Linked DNA regions of Homo sapiens: regions 1 and 2 are each linked to region 3. The links come from fine-mapping of genetic effects on gene expression. A gene starts in region 3. Each other region holds a variant in brackets. All regions are shown on one strand. Distances are from middle to middle.

The links. PIP is the estimated chance that this variant, and not a neighbour inherited with it, causes the effect.
Region 1: its variant is fine-mapped to the expression of NAA38 in whole blood (TOPMed, PIP above 0.99).
Region 2: its variant is fine-mapped to the expression of NAA38 in whole blood (INTERVAL, PIP 0.95).

The regions. Positions count from the first base shown.
Region 1 is chr17:7,823,885-7,827,884 of GRCh38, reverse strand. It overlaps DNAH2 (dynein axonemal heavy chain 2), which reads right to left. Exons shown (of 86, transcript NM_020877.5): 75 at 3,903-4,000; 76 at 3,581-3,764; 77 at 3,158-3,348. Among named protein-coding and RNA genes, the nearest start is that of KDM6B, 8.3 kb to the left of the region's middle. The variant T/C (reference allele first, on the strand shown) is at 2,019.
Region 2 is chr17:7,919,070-7,923,298 of GRCh38, reverse strand. It overlaps KCNAB3 (potassium voltage-gated channel subfamily A regulatory beta subunit 3), which reads left to right. Exons shown (of 14, transcript NM_004732.4): 14 at 120-1,440. The coding sequence ends at 197. Among named protein-coding and RNA genes, the nearest start is that of RNF227, 4.9 kb to the right of the region's middle. The variant A/C (reference allele first, on the strand shown) is at 2,115.
Region 3 is chr17:7,855,629-7,859,628 of GRCh38, reverse strand. It overlaps NAA38 (N-alpha-acetyltransferase 38, NatC auxiliary subunit), which reads left to right and starts at 2,070. Exons shown (of 3, transcript NM_001320925.4): 1 at 2,070-2,246; 2 at 2,431-2,614; 3 at 2,786-2,944. The coding sequence starts at 2,166. The coding sequence ends at 2,898. It overlaps TMEM88 (transmembrane protein 88), which reads right to left. Exons shown (of 2, transcript NM_203411.2): 2 at 3,530-4,000. The coding sequence ends at 3,915. It overlaps CYB5D1 (cytochrome b5 domain containing 1), which reads right to left and starts at 1,626. Exons shown (of 4, transcript NM_144607.6): 1 at 1,335-1,626; 2 at 1,150-1,226; 3 at 805-1,023; 4 at 1-247. The coding sequence starts at 1,494. The coding sequence ends at 17. RefSeq lists enhancers at 649-1,510, 1,316-1,535, 1,864-2,158, 1,886-2,255, 1,511-2,373 and 2 more.

The DNA of each region.
Region 1 (4,000 bases), 32 kb after region 3:
GAATAAAGGACCCTGAAACCCATACATATATGGAAACATGATTGAAGGCTGAGCAGGCACTACAGATCAGAAAAGTACTTTCGCAGTATTTGAGAAGTGGTACTGGGAGAATTGGTTATCCATGTAGAAAAAAAAAATTGGCTGGGCGCAGTGGCTGATGCGTGTAATCCCAACAGTTTGGAAGGCTGAGGCGGGTGGATCACCTGAGGTCAGAAGTTCGAGACCAGCCTGGTCAACATGGTGAAACCCCGTCTCTACAAAAAATAACAAAATTAGCTGGGTAGGGTGGCAGGTGCCTGTAATCTCAGCTACTCAGGAGACTGAGGCAGGAGAATCGCTTGAACCTGGGAGGCAGAGGTTGCAGTGAGCCGAGATCACGCCACTGCACTCTAGCCTGGGTGACAGAGCAAGACTCTGTCTCAAAAAAAGCAAAACAAAACCAAAGAAAATTGGACCTCTACCTCATACCACAGTCACAAAAATGAATTCCAAGTGATTAAAAACTTAAATGTGAAAGTCAAATTATAAATTTTTTGGAAGGCAAGTATAGGAGAGTACTTTTACAATCTTTAAGCAAGGATTTCTTGAACAAGACAAAGGAGCACAAACCATTTAAAAAAGGAAAGATAGCTAAATTCAACCTCATAAAAATTAAGAATTTCTCTTCACCAAAAAACAGCATAAAAGAGAAGAGACAAACCACAAAACACATAACTGACAAAGGATTAGGATCTGGAATATATGAAGAACTACAAAACGCGAAGAACATCATGAATGAATGTCAAGCACATAATGTTGAATGAAAAAAGCAAGTTGCAGAGAAACATATATAGCAATGGTTGCATTAGCAATACAAACTTTTGCATTACAATGAAAAAGAATCCCTAACTCCAGAGGAAAAGAAAAACATTATAAAGAAAATGACAAATACAAGATTCAGAAGAGTGGTTTCCTCTGAGTGGGGAGGGAAAGTGATGAGATTGGGAAGAGGCACACTGGGACTTCAAAGAAAATGCTGGGATTTTTCTTTCTTAAAAGGATGATGGGCCGGGTGCGGTGACTCATGCCTGTAATCCCAGCACTTTGGGAGGCCGAGAGTAGGCAGATTGCCTGAGGTCAGGAGTTCAAGACCAGCCTGGCCAACATGGTGAAACTCCATCTCTACTAAAAATACAAAAATTAGCCAGGTGTGGTGGCGGGCACCTGTAATCCCAGCTACTCGGAGGCTGAGGCAGGAGAATCGCTTGAATCTGGGAGGCGGATGTTTCAGTGAGCCGAGATGGCGCCACTGCGCTCCAGCCTGGGCGACAGAGTGAGGCTCCATCTCAAAAAAAAAAAAAAAAAAAAAAGATGATGGGCACACAGATATTCAAGGAATCATGATCCTTTATAACTTGCATATATTTTATAAATCTTCTTTTGTACCTACTTAATATCTAGCTTTTTTAAAAGACTGGATAGCAGGAAGTGACCCAGGAATATACTCCAGGACTATATCCCAAACTGGCAACTGGGGGCTGTGAATACAGGGACTTTCTTATTTGAAGTAAAACTCAGGCTGGGCACGGTGGCTCACACCTGTAATCCCTGTAATCCCAGCACTTTGGGAAGCCAAGGTGGGTGGATCACCTGAGGTCAGGAGTTCGAGACCAGCCTGGCCACCATGGTGAAACCCTGTCTCTACTAAAAATGCAAAAATTAGTAGGGCGTAGTGGCGCACACCTGTAGTCCCAGCTACTCAGGTGGCTGAGGTAGGAGAACTGCTTGAACCTGGGAGGCGGAGCCCAGGCTGCAGTGTAACAGCGCAATCTCAGCTCCCTGCAACCTCCACCTCTAGCCAGGGTTATCATACCTGAACTCCATATCTAACCTTCCTGAGCTCAGGTGATCCACCTGCTTCAGCCTCCCCAAATGCTAGGATTACAGGTGTGAGCCATCACACCCGGCCTGAGCCACCATGCCTGGCCAAGACGCTTTCTAAAAAAATATCCTGCCTCTAAACGTAATCACATTCTGAG[T/C]CTTGGGGGTTGGGACAAAAAAGTGTGAAACGAGTTGCTATTATGGTGCTGGTGTGCCAAGAAGTGCTTTGTAATCTGATGGCAATTCAGAGCTGGCACTGACTTTGGGGCTGATGCCAGAGATGGGATTAGAGTTGAAATCATGAAAAGGACAATTTCTCCAACAACTTGTGAAAGGAGAAAGTAGAATGAGAAACGCTGGGCCAGGACCAAGGGTCCCTCCCCTCTTTGGCCCTCCCCTCTTAGTCCTTAGGTTAAGGAGTAAGTATTGCAATCTGGTCACAGGCAGAGGAAAAAGAAACACCGAAGTAATAAATGATATGTCAAAAGACAGCGGGGAAAGCAGGAGTGATGTGTCAGGGAGCCAGGGAAAGGGACAGTCGACTGTGACAGCTGCCCCAAGTGGCCAAGGAGGATTAATAATGATGAAAGGCACCCATGCGTGATTCAAACAGCTCTTATCTGTTGAGGATGATACATACTGGTCCATGTGCTTTTCACAGGGTGAGCAAAAAGGATTTTGATCTCAACTAAGCGCAATGAAAAGCTACTAAAATAGTTTAAGCAGGGGTGAGTGGGTGAAGCGCAGTGACACGGCAGATTTTAGAGGGTGGTGATGATTGCATTTGGTGATGAGCTTGTGATATTGGAGATAAAAATTTCAGTAGAGTCGGAGGAAAGGAAAGGCAAAGAGGCAGGAAGTGTGACATTCGGAAGAGGATGTAAGGAAATGATGGGAGGCAGGAAGGTTCTGAGGTATAAAAGAATGAATTTGGGGACCCAACTACCCAAACTCTGGCTCTGGAATACTTATTTACTCTTTCTGTATCTCATTTCCTATCTTTAAAATGGGGGTAACAGTATTCACCTTATAGGGTGTGTGTGTGCACACACCCATATTAAACGAGTTAATAAATGTAAAGAACTTAGAACAGTGCGTGGCACATGATAATCACTCAAGAAATGTTAGCTCTTATTATTGTGTTCTAGGAGTTTGGCACAAACAGGAGAGGAATGAGGTGGAATTTTTTGAGGACAATCAAATCATGTTGTTGTTGGTTAAGCCCTCTCTCTGGTGCTAGCAGGAGGTAAGGTGGACCAGATGGCCCTGATGATGCTGGTTCTCTATGGCCACATACCTTTGGTGGCTCTGTGGTCATCTTGATGCTGACCTGCAAGATTGAGATAGGGAAGTCTGGGTGGGGGATGGAGCTGAGCCAGAGGCGGAAGGATGGATGAGGATCCTCCACCTGCAGCTGCTCCACCAGCTTGTCCAGATTAGGCATCCAAGACAGTGACAGGTGGCAGTTTGCCAGGAACACCCAGTGTCCTGCAAGGAGATGCCAGGGTCAGTGGGAATCATTTCCTAAGCCCTGCCTGTCCTCATGCTTTCCACCTGGTGTTGGGGTGGGGGTGCTGGGGGGGCCTAACACTAAGATCTGCCACTTCTGGGGCCCTCTGTAGAAGTGGGAGGTACAGGGACAGTAGTGTAATTGAGGTTGGAGGTTCTAGGGACAAGGACTGGGCTGAAGATGGGGGTGGAAGAAAGGATGGACACCAACCCTGAGTCACACCCTCTCGGAGGAGCCGAGCAGCGATGGGGGCCTGGCCCTGGCCCAGGGACAGGGCGTGGAAGCGCTGGGCCATGCCCATGTGCTCTGCCAGCTGCAGCAGGGCACTGGTGGGGTCCACACCAGGGGACAGGATGAACACGAGTGGGGATCGTGGGGTTGAATCCTCCAGCACCTGCCAGAAGCACAGGTATAGCATCAGGCAGAAGGCCACATGACCAAAGTGGGAGAGAGAGATGAAGGAGACTGAAACAGAGCGAGGGAGGCAGGAAAGACCCATGGGCCGTGGGGACAAGGAAGCCGAGCCACCGACCGACTTCATATTCAGCACAGGCGGCTCGATGAAGCGGGAGCCAAGGTTGGTGATGATGAAGGAGGTCACGCAGAAGGCCACGCGGTCCTGGCGCAGGG
Region 2 (4,229 bases), 64 kb before region 3:
CTGCGGCTCTTGCCTTGCCACTTGACCCCACTGTGGTGCTTCCCCGGCTACTGGAACCCCATGCCCTTTCTCAGTGACCCAGCATGGGCTGCCGTCGCCACCGTCCCACTCTCCTCCAGGTGCTGAGCCAGCTGACCCCGCAGACAGTGATGGAAATAGACGGGCTCCTGGGAAACAAGCCGCATTCCAAGAAGTAGTCTGTCGCGGGCGCAGGGACCCAACCCGGTGTCGCTGCACCCGCCCGAGCCCCGCTCCTCGCAGCCGCCTCTCCCGCTCCGGATCCCTCCACGCAGCGGCCGGAGCCAGACTAGCCCCGCCCACCAACGAGTCCCGGCTTCGAGTAGTGATACGCATGAACAAAGCCATATCCTTTTGCAGTGGGGTCGAGAGAGAAAGTAGCACGCCCGCCCCCTGCTGCGTCTTTCTAGGCCCTTCTTGCAAATCCCGGGCATGAGCTACTCGCCGTCGGCTCTCTGCCACTTCGTCTCGCTCCCTACTCTCCTCCCCTTATTCCCGAGGCCCAGAAAAGAAAACAAAAACAAAAACCCAGCACATACAAGAAACATACAGTGTACCTCAAAAGGGGCCCTTGAAATGTCATCAAAGGGTAATAACCTAGTGAGTGAGTTGTGATGTCATCTGGAACATAGGAAATGGGGCTCTTAGCGTATTCGGTACGAAGGAAGCCAGGCTGGTCCTGGCAGGAAGTAAATGATAATCTTTGGGAAACCAGGACCCTGCCTCCCAGCCCAGAGGTGGAGGAGGGCGGTCAGGGTGGGGTCTACAGTGGCACAGCACTGACAAAGGTAGAGGGAAATGTAATAGCACATCTACGCTGCAGTCTGGTGAAAGTGGCCGGGGTGGTCCTTGGAAAACAGTTGGGCTGTTCTTGGCAGGAATTAGTGACAGCCTTTCCGTCACGGGCAGGGACGCCTTGATTTAAAAAAAATAAATAAATAAAACGTCTGGGTATAGACTTTTGAGCCTTGAGCAGGGCCTCCTACCTGGCAGTGGGGAACTGCAGTCTTCCTCCTGGCAATAAACCTAAAGCAATAATGATGGCCCCTTCTCTGTAAGACTTCCCAGGTAACTGTAAATAAACCTCAGCTTGATCCTCACAGTGTCTAAAGTTGCAGGGGCTTGGGAGGTTAGGGTCACAGTCTCACTTGTCTGGCCCTCTCGCCCCCTAACATTAGAAATCTGCTAGCATTAGCTTTCTCTCCATTGCTCATTCACCTTGGTGACCCAGGCATCGGGCTCCTAGTCACTGTTCTCATCAAGGACCAAGACACCAGATACCCCAGGCCCCAGTTTTCTTCCTTCAGCTACCACATTCCTTAGAACCCAGAAATCTGGCTTCATAATTTTGTTCCTCCTCTTTCTATGAAAGACTTAGCTATCTGCCTTTATTTGTTTGTATTTAAAGTAATATTAGCCATACTTGTTCCTTGTACTTCTCATTTCTCTCTCGCTGGACACCCACACATATGCCAAGGAACCTGTGGCTGAGGGGGAGATGCTGTTCTGAGGTTGAGGCTTTGTGATTTGGTGGAGAGGTAAAGTGAAGAATGGTCTGAGGTTGAGGGAATACAGAGAGAAGGAAAGATGTTATCATTTCACTGGAACAGAATTGGGTGGAAAGTTACAACCTTAAAGATCACAAGGTAGAGGAGGATGAGCTCTGCCTTCCTTAAATACAACCTGCCCATCTCCCTTCTACCCGTCCTCATCCCGCCTTGATCCAAAAGCTGGGCAAGCAAAGTAAAACCAATTTCCAAAAGAGAAAAGTCAGCAGCATGCCATTTACTGGATTAGCAGCCAACTGCATCAACTAATTAATACTTAAATCCACCCCATCATCTCCCACTCATTTTGCAAGACTGTGGAGGAAACAAAGAAGTAAAATATATTACTAAACTATGATTAGTTATTCTGTAACATACGAGAATTTATCAATCCCAAATAGGATTCTCCTTAAATAGTTATCTTAGAGGGTTATACACTTATTTTAATGAACCTGTCCCATTGCTCAAAATATTAAAAACAAACAAACACCATTCCTCCTAGAATTACCTTCAGAGAGAGTTTGGAAACGCCTTGATTTAAAAAAAAAA[A/C]AACAAAAAAAAAAGCCTTCCTTTATTGTCACGCCTCCTTTGTATATGGACATTTGCCATATTTATCACCCACCTCATTCATTAATTTAGCAAGTATTTGTCTATTGAGTCCTATTATGGTATAGCACAGGGATACAAGGGTGAACAAAACCAGACTCAGAACCTTCATATATCTTGCTGAGGAGAGAGACAATCACAGAACCACCAAATAAATACAAACTTCTTGTCCAAAGTCCAGAGGAAAGCACATGGTATTACTGAGTCTGTAGTGGTTATTTGACATGGTGAGGTTACGCTGAGAGCTGAAGCATGAATAGGTGTTAATAAGGGTTAAGCAAGAGGGTTAAGAGCATATGCTAAGGCCTGTGGCAGAAAAGAACATACAAGCCAAAAGTACCCAAAGCCAGAGTGTCTAGAGAGGAACAGAACAGAAAGTGAGACATGGGTAATGGCTGGGTGCGGTGGCTCACGCCTGTAATCCCAGTACTTTGGGAGGCTGAGGCTGGTGGATCACTTGAGGTCAGGAGTTTGAGACCAGCCTGGCCAACATGGCGAAAACCTATCTCTACTAAAAATAAAAAATAAAAATAAAAATAAAAATTAGCCAGGCATGGTGACACCCACCTGTAGTCCCAGCTACTCAGAAGGCTGAGGCAGGAGAATCACTTGAGCCCAGGAGGCAGAGGTTGCAATGAGCTGAGATTGCACCACTGCATTCCAGCCTGGGCGACGGAGCAAGACTCTGTCTGGAAGGAAGGAAGGAAGGAAGGGGTAAGTTCAGAACACACAGGGACTTACAGGGCACATTACAATGTTATATTTATCTAGGCTGGGCGCAGTGGCTCACACCTGTAATCCAAGCACTTTGGGAGGCCAAGGCAGGTGGGATCACTTGAGCCCAGGGGTTCAAGACCAGCCTGGACAACATGGGGAGACCCCATCTCTACAAAAATACAAGAATTAGCTGAGCATGGTAGCTCATACCTGTGTAGTCCCAGCTACTCGGAGCCTGAGGTAGGTAGGTGGCTTGAGTCTGGGAGATCAAGGCTGTAGTGAGCCAAGATTATGCCACTACACTCCAGCCTGATGCTCAGAGCAAGCTCCTGTCTCAAAAAATATATTTATCATACAGGGAAAAAAAAACAGTAGGAAACCCTCTATATCCGTTATCTATTGATACACAACAAATCACCACCAAAGTTAATGGCCTGAGATAACTTTTTATTTATTTTTATTTTATTTTATTTGAGATGGAGTCTCGCTCTGTCACTCAGGCTGGAGTACAGTTGCATGATCTCAGCTCATTGCAACCTCCCTCTCCCGGGTTCAAGCGATTCTCCTGCCTCACCCTCCTGAGTAGCTGGGACTACAGGCGAGTGCCACCATGCTCAACTAATTTTTTGTATTTTTAGTAGAGACAGGGTTTCACCATCTTGGCCAGGCTGGTCTTGAACTCCTGGTGATCCACCTGCCTCGGCCTCCCAAAGTGCTGGGATTACAGGCGTGAGCCACCACACCCAGCCACTATTTATTTATTTATTTATTTATTTATTTATTTAGAGATGGAGTCTCGCTCTGTCGCCAGACTGGAGTGCAGTGGCGATCTTGGCTCACTGCAACCTCCGACTCCCTAGTTCAAGCGATTCTCCTGCCTCAGCCTCCCCAGTAGCTGGGATTACAGATACGTGCCACCACGCCCAGCTAATTTTTGTTTTTTTAGTAGAGACGGGATTTCACCTTGTTGTCCAGGAGGGTCTTGATCTCCTGATCTTGTGATCTGCCTGCCTCAGCCTCCCAAAGTGCTGGGATTACAGGCGTGAGCCACCGCGCCCAGCCACTTTTTATTTATTTTTAAGAGGCGGGGGTCTCGCTCTGTCACCCAGGCTGGAGTGCACTGACATGATCACGGCTCAGTGCAGCTTCGAAGTCCTGAGGCTCAAGTGATCCTCCCACCTCAGCCTACTGAGTAGCTGGGACGATGTGCACCACTGAGCCTGGCTTTTTTCTTTTTTTTTGTAATGATGGGGTCTCACCACGATTCCCAGGCTGATCTCAAATTCCCGAGCTCAAGTTATCCTTCCATCTTGGCCTCCCATAGTGCTAGGATTACAGGTG
Region 3 (4,000 bases):
GTGTACATCTCCTTGCCTACAACTCCGTGAGATCATCATTGAAGTACAGAAGTATTGCAGGTGTGTGAAGTGTACCGTCCATACTGAGATAGTCAAATTCTTCCTCCTCATCCCGGATCCCATTCTCTTCCAGGGTAAAATCCATGTTCAGGTTCTTCCCTTCATATTTCCACGTGTAGCTGGCAGCATGTGAGTTATAGGGGAGATAGCGGTGTAGGATTTCCCATATGGACTCCAGAACCCCCACCTGGAGAACACAGAAGCACCCCACCCCCAGAATTCTGGATGGAGTATACATATACACACGCTGGGATCAAAGTGCCTCCCTTGGCAGATAGCAGCTTCAGGTACTCTACGGCCCCGGGAAAAAAAAGCTGAAACTCCAGCATGCAATGAGCAGACCCTAAAGTCCTACAGATCTTAATGGCAGCCACTTCTAACTACCGGATGGCCATAAAGGGTCAACTGTCCCCTCACTATATCCATGCAACAGAGTAGATTAAAAAGAAAGTCCAATTGCTGTCCAAAACGGCGTGTAAGAGCTTCGAAGGACCACCATCACTAAGATACATGAACTGCTGTTCCCAGGCTTATAAAGGAGTCTCTTGTCCCCCTGTGACCCAGACACTCCTAGAATTCCCAACCCTGGGGACCTAGGTGCTGTGCTTTCCTCAGTTGCCTCAATGTAAAGGACAGAAAATACACTCCCACCGGTTATGGAAAAAATGTTGCCCTGAAGATCGGCCTGGAGATTTGCTGGGATTCCCCATTCCTTCTAACCTGCTCCTTGTCACCAGTTCTCACCTCCAGTGTGTGCTCCTGCGACGTGAGCGTGTTAATGATGCGGATGCTCCGGGTCTTGGCAGACAGCCGCCCCACCTCATAATACGACCCCTGCCACCAGGGCTTCCCAAAATCGTTGGCCCAGTCCGAACAGGGCAGCTGAGGCGGAACGTGCACAAAGCGGCCCCGCGGGGTGCAGTACCTCAGGCAGCCGGTCAGCGGATCTATGTGCTTGCGGATCTTTAAAGGAGGGTTTGGGGCGAGGGTGTCAGAGCAGCCATTAGGCTCTGGCTAGCCTCCGCCTTTCCTTCCCATCCCCGCTCTCCATTTCCTCTACCCACAATCCCAGGTTCCAGCATAACTCACGTCTCTGGTCTTTGGATCAAACCAGTGGCTGATATCCTGGCCTGCAACTTCCACGATGGGTTTCAGCAGCAGGTTCCCTTGAAAAGAGCAGCACAGCCACTGTCAATGCCAGCCCTTCGAGAACCAGGCAAACGCGCGCGTGCACACACACACACTCCGGCCCCGGCCCAACGTGTGGCCCTTACCCTTGTATTCCTGTGCCAATGACGTTAGGTCGTACACGCGTCCCAGGTAAGATACCCAGAGGTCTTCGGGCCTGTTATGTTGGGCCACCTCCGCCGGCGTGAAATAGCGACGCTGAAAATACTCCAAGTCTGGCCCAGCCACCAGGCCCCGGCGCGGCATGGCTCTTGCTCTGTCGGTCACTGGATCTCTTGGTTACTCCTTTGCTCCTCAGCACGTACTCACTACTACTACGACCTCCGTCGCGTCCGGGAGCCGAGGGGAGAGCGTTTATCCGCTGACATGGAAACCATTGTCCTTTTCCGGCCACCGTCCACTGAGATAAATATCAGGGGCGGGGTTTGGACTGCACGTGTTCACGGGAAACGTAGTATGAGTCCCGCGTGGGGCATATAAGGATCAAGTAATTGAGTTGCGCCGCTTTCAGGAGTTGCGGGGTGGGGCAGAGAACGAATACGCTCCGTTTTAATTCAGTGGCCTGGGCTACATGGGATATTTAGGACAGACTATCTCTCTGAGACAGAAAAACAAGGGAGGAGGCAGTATGAAAGAATGTATTCTCGCTAAATTCCAGTTTCTAAAGGATGTGTAAGAAACCAGAGGTAAAGGTCTCGCGATATCTTAAGACATCCGGCGTAGTACGCTTCAGTGAGCCACAGCGCTAGAGAAGTAGGAGAAGCTCGCGAGATCTGTGCCGTTGCCGAGGAGACTAGGAGGGGGAGGAGAGGGGATCTCGCGAAAGGAAAGAGGTCGGGAGCGCTCGCGAGATCTCGGACCACCCAACCTGAAAGGTGCTTAGGAAGTTGAAAGGCCCAGAGGAGGCCTCCGGGCAAATGGCCGGAGCTGGACCGACCATGCTGCTACGAGAAGAGAATGGCTGTTGCAGTCGGCGTCAGAGCAGCTCCAGTGCTGGGGTTAGCACGGGCTCTGGTTCTGGGACTGAGGGGCAGTCAAGCAGCAAGATGGAGGGGGTGGGGAACTGCAGCTCCCGGCAGCCTCTGGGCTTTGTGTGAGTGCCCCGCGGGCTGCCGGGAGCTGTGGTTCCGCGGGCGGGCAGCCTGGGCTGCGCGGTCTGAGCGCTTGTTACACCCCGCGCAGGATTCGGACGGAGAGCGCGAGGACTCGGCGGCTGAGCGCGCCCGACAGCAGCTAGAGGCGCTGCTCAACAAGACTATGCGCATTCGCATGACAGATGGACGGACACTGGTCGGCTGCTTCCTCTGCACTGACCGTGACTGCAATGTCATCCTGGGCTCGGCGCAGGAGTTCCTCAAGCCGTCGGGTCAGTGCCCGGGGAATGCACACCCGCCTGGTAATGTGGCGGAACCTTACGCAAGGCATTTCCCCTTAAGGGCCTGGCTGCAACCCTTGTTTTCTGGGGCTCGTTTTCGTGGCTCAGAGGGGCGGGACTGATTCTGGCCTACTTTCCTGATGCTCTGATCCTTCTTTCCAGATTCCTTCTCTGCCGGGGAGCCCCGTGTGCTGGGCCTGGCCATGGTACCCGGACACCACATCGTTTCCATTGAGGTGCAGAGGGAGAGTCTGACCGGGCCTCCGTATCTCTGACCACGATGGCGCTTACCTTTCAGACTTCATTAAACTTATGACCGAATGGGCCTGTGTCTGTGTGTAGCTGGGATGCCGGTGCAGGATAGCACACCCCATCCCTAGAGGAAAGGGCTCATCTGAAGTCGGGAGCACCCTCAACCCTCCTCTCCCAACCAAGATGTCCAGGGGTGCCAAAGGTTCTCTCAAGTTCAGGGGTAGAGATGGGGGGCAGGGCTGAATGACGGACCAACAGGCCCCAGGGTGGGCCCCTGCATCTTCCCTCCCACGGCTGCTGCTCCAGAATTGTGGCGGGAGGGGGTGTCATCCTGCTCCGGAAGGCCCATTGTTTCCCACCCCGGCCTGGCAACACCGAGTTCCTCTAAGCTGGGGTCAGAGAACGGGCTCAGGTCCCCAAGGGGAGCAGCGGCAGGCGGCCGAGGCTGGGCCCCTCCACTCTATTGAGGGGGAGGTGCCTGGGGTCAGGAACAGATCTCTGAGGTCTGGCCAGGAAGAACGGACAAAAGCGATAAGGCCAGGGGGCTCAAGGATGCTCCTCTCTGCTCATTTGTAGCCCTGGCACATGTTTCCTGTTCCTCGGCACAGGGCAGGGGTGATAGTACTTGTGCCACGCCTCTGTTCGCAGAGCGCGTTCAGTTCGTTAAATCTTTATTGATGCGTGGACACTCCTTCCCCTCCAGCCCCGCCCCCCAGCCCCAGAAATACTAGAGAAGCTGCACCATAAAACGAGGGCACGAGATTGTTGTCCCATTCACGACGGAGCTGAGGGGGAGGTGTGCAGGTTCCAGCCTAGATGTTCAGGATTGAGATGTGGGTCGTGAAAGGAAAGTGGGTTTTCCGGGATGTGGGGGCTTTTCTCAGCACTGGGTCCACTGACGCTGCTGCTCCCAAGGGGATGCTAGGACTCCGCTCAGGCAGGGGTGGGGGCAGGGCAGGTCGGAAGATGCCGGGCTTCAAGTCCTTGGGCCGAATAAGAGGGAGGGCAGCCGTCAGGGTTGTTCTTGACTCGAGGGTCATTAGACCCAGACCTTTCCTGATGTGGGAACGGCCTGGGACCCTGGTGAGGCCCGGATTTGCCGCGGCTGCGGGGCGCGCCGACGCC